Linked DNA regions of Homo sapiens. The protein of the gene in region 1 purifies or fractionates together with the protein of each later gene. This does not show direct contact. Each region holds a gene or a part of one and is shown on either strand. Other genes may lie near its edges.

What was found. The genes of interacting proteins can lie anywhere in the genome.
Region 2: the proteins of ZNF185 (region 1) and CRY1 purify together in Homo sapiens (co-immunoprecipitation; one large-scale study listed by IntAct). This does not show direct contact.

The regions. Positions count from the first base shown.
Region 1 is NC_000023.11:152,918,567-152,922,066, reverse strand, and holds part of ZNF185 (zinc finger protein 185), read right to left. Parts: intron 3,085-3,500; coding exon 2,986-3,084; intron 1,740-2,985; coding exon 1,656-1,739; intron 1,361-1,655; coding exon 1,319-1,360; intron 1-1,318. UniProt on the Homo sapiens protein: May be involved in the regulation of cellular proliferation and/or differentiation.
Region 2 is NC_000012.12:107,003,050-107,006,549, forward strand, and holds part of CRY1 (cryptochrome-1), read right to left. Parts: intron 2,200-3,500; coding exon 2,057-2,199; intron 1-2,056.

The sequences.
Region 1 (3,500 bases):
GGATCACGGCCAAGAGGTGGCCCAGGCTGGGGGTTCAGTGACTCCAGCTCAGGATAAGGACAGCATACTGGGTTGAATAGTGTCCCCCCAAAATTCATGTCCCCTGGAACCTGTGACTGTAACCTTATTTGGAAATAGGGTCTTTGCAGATGTAATCAGGTAAGATGAGGTCATACTGGAGTAGGATGGGTCCTAAATCCAATGACCGCTGTCCTTGTAAGAAGAGGGAAATCTGGACACAGACACACAGAGAAGAGAAGGCCATGTGAAGACAGACGCACAGACTGGAGTGATGCAGGTACAAGCCGAGGAACACCAAGGATCACCAACCACCAGCAGAAGCCAGGAGAGTGGCCTGGGATGGTTTCTCCCTCAAAGCCTCCAGAAGGAACCCACCCTGCTAACACCTTGATCTAGACTTCTGGTCTCCAGAACCGGGAGAGAATCCCTTTCTGATGTTTTAAGCCACTCAGTTTTTGGTACTGCGTTACAGAAACCACAGGAACCAAATGCAGCCAGGAAGACCCCCCCACCGCCCCCCGTTCTCTGTCACTTCCTTTGTGCTGCCACCATCCCTGCTCTCTGTATTCCTGCCAACTTCCTGGTCTTCCAACACAGCAAGCTAGTCCCACCCCGGGCCTGTGCACTGGGGCCCTCTGCCTGGGGCAGTTGGCATGCTGTCTTCTCTTGGGTTTGCAGTCCCCAGCTAGCCACCTCAGCACAGAGAGAGGCCTTCCCTGTCCACTCAACTGGAAGTCCCTCAAATTCAAGTTTCCAGAAGTTTCTTTCTTGCTTTCCCCCGAATATTTTCCTCCTCCAGAAGGTGCCCTGTCTCAACTAATGGTGACACCCCTCCCTCATTCAGCTGGAGTATCCCGACGTTCTGATCATTCCCTGTTAAGCCCTGTTCACCCTTTAGGGCCCATCTCCAATGTCACAGTCACCTCCCAGGGGAAGTTCTCCTGATGGCCCAGGTTTTGATCCTGGATGAGAGCAGAAGGCAAGGCATCAGGCAAGCAACAGGGGCAGGGGAACAACTCCCAGAGGGCCTTGGAAATGCTCCACGTTGGGTCAGGGGCCCAGCCCCATTAGCCATTGGCAAATGGAAGAGCTTGACCACATATGCTACCACAGCCACCCAGGTGCTTGCCAGGCCTCCAGACAGAAGCCCCCAGCCCCTCACAACTCCCCCTGCTCAGGGACAGTAGTCCCCCACATCCACATCCCCTCTCCACAGCTCCCACACTACACCCCTGCTGACGGAAGGCCTTCCTGTGGCCAGTAACAGGCCTCCAAGGTGTCCCTTGATGACACTTACCTCTTCGCGATAAACGGTGCCTGTGTCTCCTGGGTAGGACTGCTGGAAAGGAAGCAGAAAGGCAATGCTTTGGGCAGAGCCCGTGGGCAGGTGACATCAAGACCGCTCTACCTCAGAGGGTCCTGGGCCCTCTCCATTCCCGGCACTTCACTGTCCCTGGTGGTAGCCGCCAGACCTCTCCATTTTCTAGAAAGTACATCTGAGAATCTGAGAAGGCTCAGCTAGGAAGGCCCTTGGGGGTGATCTCTCCACCCACCCTTTCATCAGCCAGAGAAGGCTGGAGCTCTGAGGAGAGGAGAGCTGTCCTAGAGCCTGGAGCCAGTTGGTGGCAACTCACCCAGTGCTCTTCTTGGCCGCTGACAGGACGTAGGAGTGCTCCCGGGGAGCTGTCCTCCTCAGAACACCGCTTGCAGCCTCTGACCTGGGGTGACACGGGATGGGGGAGCATCTGATGGGTGCCAAGCTGGACATGCTCTGCCAGCCTAGCCTGGGATGGACTCGGGGTGACTTAGGGCCACCCCAGGGAGGCAAGGGGTGAGAGAAACCAGATTTGCACCTGCTCCAAGGACTATTCAAAGGAAATGTAGAACCTGAAGGAAGGGCAGCCCATGTTTATGGAGCATGTGGCATGTGCCCGGCTCTGCGCCAGATGCCAACATCCTCGCATTGGCTTATTGCTCTTCTCAATCCAGGAAAGTAGACGCTAGTATCCTCTGTGATTTACAGATGAGGAAACTGAGTCCAAGAAGCTTTCATTATTTGCCCAAGAGCACTCACCTAGCAGGTGGCAGAGCTGGCATTCAATGCTAGGCAGCTCCTAGCTTCTGGCTCTTTTCCTTGCTCCACCCAGGCCTGGGGGCCCCTGCCACTGTGAACTGTTCCCTGAGGATAGCCAATCTGCCAGGGCCTTTGGCAATGGGGCTTTGCTGTGATTCCTGCGCCACAGATGGGTCAGCAGATATGGACCTGGTGGCTGGCTGAGCCCAGGGAGGGGAGGGCTTTATTTCCTCAGGGCCCAACTGCTGTACAGGCCCCAAGCCAAAGGCATACAAAAGGTGCTTAACAAACCCTTCCTGTCATAGTTCACCAGCACTGGGTGGTATGTGGTCAGTCCCCATGGACAGAGGACTGAGGAGGGGCAAGGGTCCATGGAACTTTGCTGGCCTGTGTGGACGAGGGCAGCTTGGCGCAGAGACTAGGGTAGAATTTCAGCAGCATGGGGCACACTCCCACTGCTGTGCATGCCTGGAGCTCAGTTTGGGGTCCGGGGCATTCAGAACCCCCAAGGCATGCAGATCATGCAGATAGAGGGCACTGTGCAGGTGGCTTCTCCCTGAATATTTTTGTTCAACTGTCTCAGGGCCCTTTCTAACAAACCGATTTAGAGCCCTGAAGAGCCTCCACATGAGGAGGCTTTTCCCCGGACCCACATTACCTAGGTTCTACCCCACAGAAGGTTCTCAAGGGCCCCTCAGCTGGTCCAACACTGAGTGGGTGGTTCTGGCACTCAGAGAATGACACCTATTCTCATGCTCCGTGGGCTACCGCTGATGGCCTACGTGTTGTGCATTTTGTCACCCCAACCAGTACAATTCATTCCAGCAGTCTTCGAAGACTCAGGCTCCTGCCCTGCCCCCCGGGATGCCCAAAAGGCACCATTCCATTACCTCCGTTTCTGTTCATCTGAGGAGAATGGCACCACCTCCTCCTCCTCCTCCTCCTCGGTGTCCCCTGATGTAGAGCTGCGCCTGATATTGTAGGGTGCCCTAAGAGAGGGGAGAGGCGCTTTCCTGTCATAGGCTGCCACCCTCAGCAGCTTGGCTTCCTGGCTTTCAACAACAATGACGAGGCAAGTCAATATCTCTGCCTTTGGGCCTTAGGTCATGCCACTTGTTCCTCCCTGAGACCAGCTCTCCCCTCCCTCCCTGTTCGAGCCTCTCCCCTTCCCCAGAAAGGTTACCCAGCAGCTCCCCAACCCTGGATGATGGAGGCAAGGGACAAACAACGGAAAGATGTGGTCCCCTGGGAACTAGAGACACAATTCACACCTCTGTCCAGAGAACCCTCCTCCCTGAGCATGCAGTGGGGGGTGGGGGGCTTTGAAAGGGACCCCAAGGGGAGCACTAAGGGAAAACCCGAAGGTTTCTATCCAAGAAGCAGCTCAGATTTAGGCACACAATGC
Region 2 (3,500 bases), on another chromosome or scaffold:
CCTTCAGCAAATTTTATAAATTTTGATTCTATATTACTGTGGTGACAATTACTTCCTATTTTCTATTGTGCTAATGAAGGCATGAGAGATGTCAGCATATGTATCTATGTCACATACTTAGAACACATAAGCCCCCAAATTTCAAGTTATTTAAATTTAAGTATCTTTTTACTTCTGATCATTAATTAACTCAATCAATTATTAATTAAAAAAATAACTAGCTTTGCCAATGGTAGTTAAAGATTAAGTTTAGACACTCTTTTGGAATAACTACTCTTTTTCACTATGGCCATTTGCTTAGCATTTGGCCTTAATAAAAAATGACAGGTGAAATCCAACTCCATCATTTTATAGATGTGAAAACAGGCCTACCAGGAGAGTTAAGTAAACTAGTCAAGGTCATATAACTGATAAACGGCAAATCAAGGTTTTCTTAGTGTATTTTAGTGTATTTTTCATTATACAATACGTAGTGATGTATCAACTACAGATACATACAGAAAGTAATACAGAAAGCAATCACCATAAAAGATATCCTGTTTAAGTAAATTTTGTTTTGGTGTATTTTGAATTTATTCATAGGGTTGCAATGAATTTTGCTGAATGTAATGATGCTACAATAATACTACTGAGGACATTGTTAATTACACAACAGTAGCAAAATGAGAATCTTAGGACAAAACATTTTCTATATGTTACATTTTAATATGATAGATTACATATAGTAAATATTCACATTCAATCCAATAAACACTTGATTTTTTTTTTTTTTTTTGAGACAGAGTCTTGCTCTATTGCCCAGGCTGGAATGCAGTGGTGCTATCTTGGCTCACTGCAACGTCTGCCTCCCGGGTTCAAGTGATTCTCCTCCCTCAGCCTCCCAAGTAGCTGGATTACAGGCACCCGCCACTATGCCTGGCTAATTTTTGTATTTTTAGTAGAGATGAGGGTTTCACCATTTTGGCCAGGCTGGTCTTGAACTCCTGACCTCGTGATCCATCTGCCTCGGCCTCCCAAAGTGCTGGGATTACAGGTGTGAGCCATCGCGCCTAGCCTAAACAATTTTATGCATAACACTGAGTCTCCCACTTAGAAGCAACTGCTTTTATCCTGTGTTGCCCCCTCCTTGCTATGAGCTCCTTAAAGTTAAGCAAATTGGTGAGCTCGAAGGCAAGATTATTATTAAAAGATATATGAATTCTAGCTTAGTATCAAGACCTTTGTCTGAATCAAATCATGATTTTTTGATACATTTAAAATGTGAAATCAAATCAACTAGTTTGTCATGTTACAGAATTTGTTTTACTAACTTGATAAAATACATAAATTACTAAAAAAGTAAAATGATTTAAAAGGTAAATAAATTATAAGATTTCAGTACTTAAAAGGACAATGGTATGCCAAAAGTTTTAAAAAGTTAAGTTTTACAGACCTCTAAGACTCATAGCATATAACACTCCCTAAATTTAAGTTTGACCACAGAATTTCTGTGGGACAAAGCATCACCAAGGACTGGTGCTGGAAGAAATACACTTTGGGAAATATTCTATTATGCCATTGTTCAGAGGACTACAGCTATGCAATGTTATATTACATCCAATTTGCATCTGGATTTAAAATCCAGACAGACATAATAGATATACATGAAATAAGATAACATTAAACAAGCATACAAAATATGTCAAGGCAATTTATAACTATATATAACTATAAAATTGATAATGCTAAGAGCCCAGAAAGGCAAGACCACAGGAGGCTGAGTTAAGAGTAGTCAAGGAAAATTCTGTAATAGTCTTAATCCATAATAGTTTTGAAACTGAAATGCTGATACCTGTCATTGGGTCAATAGCAGCTAAATAAAATGCTAAGGATTTGACATATGTTCACTTAATTCTCCCATAACTCTGTGAAGTACATGTTATTTCTACTTTATAAACCTCAGTTAAAAACTTATCTATGTAGTTAATACCACCGAACTATATACTTAAAAATGGTTAAGATGGTAAATATTATGTTATACGCATTTTCCCACAGTAAAAAAAAAAAAAGGACTCACTTGTCTAGGTCATATAATGTATGTGAAATTCTTACAATGACTTCTACTCCAGCTTCAGTTGCCAGTTTCTTAATAGCTGCGTCTCGTTCCTTTCCAAAGGGCTCAGAATCATACTCAATTGAAAGTTTAGTAATGTTCCATTCCTAAAGTAAGAGAAAGGGGAACAATGTACACCAATTGTAATAGTTATTTTTTCTATTATAACGAAAAGTGAAAAAGCTGAAAATCTACATATCAAAGGATTATACATAAATCAAACTTTGAATATGCAGGAAAAAGTAAACAATTTATCAATTAAAAAATACATAAGTAATGAATGCATAACCCATTAGATTCTAGGCATTATGCTAGGCAACAATCTAGCAAAGCAATATGCTTAAAACCAGCTCTTATACTAAATGTGTTTGTAGAGCACTTTACTTTTTCAAATTACTCATACTTACATTATTTCATTTGAGCCTCAAAACAACACTCAGAGTTTGGCACTTTGGTTAGTATTTCCATTTTGGAGATAAGTTTATTTTTAAAACTTAGGGACCTGCCAGAGTTCACAGAAAGCCAGACCACCTGAATTTATGTCTGTTGAGTCTAAGAACTGGTCTTTAACTAACCTTTGATATTGATATGGTATAAGCTGCCTGGCTGAGGTCGTGTGTGTGTGTGTATGTAAATATTTTCTTTCTGATTACTAAAAAACGTTAACTGAAAAATTTGGAGATGGTAATAATAATAGCAGTTACTTATTATCAGGAGCTATGTTAATAAGTTCTGTACATCTCCTTATACTGATTTTAAATGAGGAAACTGTGACTTAAAGGAATTGATTTTTCTTAAGGAGAAAGTTTTTTTTTTATTCTAAGTCTATTCTGATTTATCTCATAAAGAAAAAATTCTACCATTATTTAACTGCCTATATGGTAACATACTATAATTCACCAAACACCTCCAGATTAGACAAGGGCTATTCCAATGGTGGGTTTAAAAAAATTGCTATTCTAGGCGGCGTGCGGTGGCTCATGCCTGTAATCCTAGCACTCTGGGAGGCTGGGGTGGGTGGATCACCTGAGGTCAGGAGTTCAAGACCAGCCTGGCCAGCATGGTGAAACCCCGTCTCTACTAAAAATAAAATCATTAGCTGGGTATGGTGGCACATGCTTGTAATTCCAGCTACTCGGGAGGCTGAGGAAGTAGAATCACTTGAACCCGGGAGGTGGAGGTTGCAGTGTGCCACTGCACTCCAGACTGAGCGACAGGAGCGAGGCTCCATCTCAAAAAAAAAAAATTGCTATTATAAACTTTACAGTATATATCTTTACCTTTATGCACACATCTTACAAATTATAGGGTATTTATCCAATTTTTTCCTAGAAATAATCCCTTGAAAAACAACTGATGGATCAAAGATAAGCACATTCAAAATTCTGATAGGCTGTCAAATTATGTA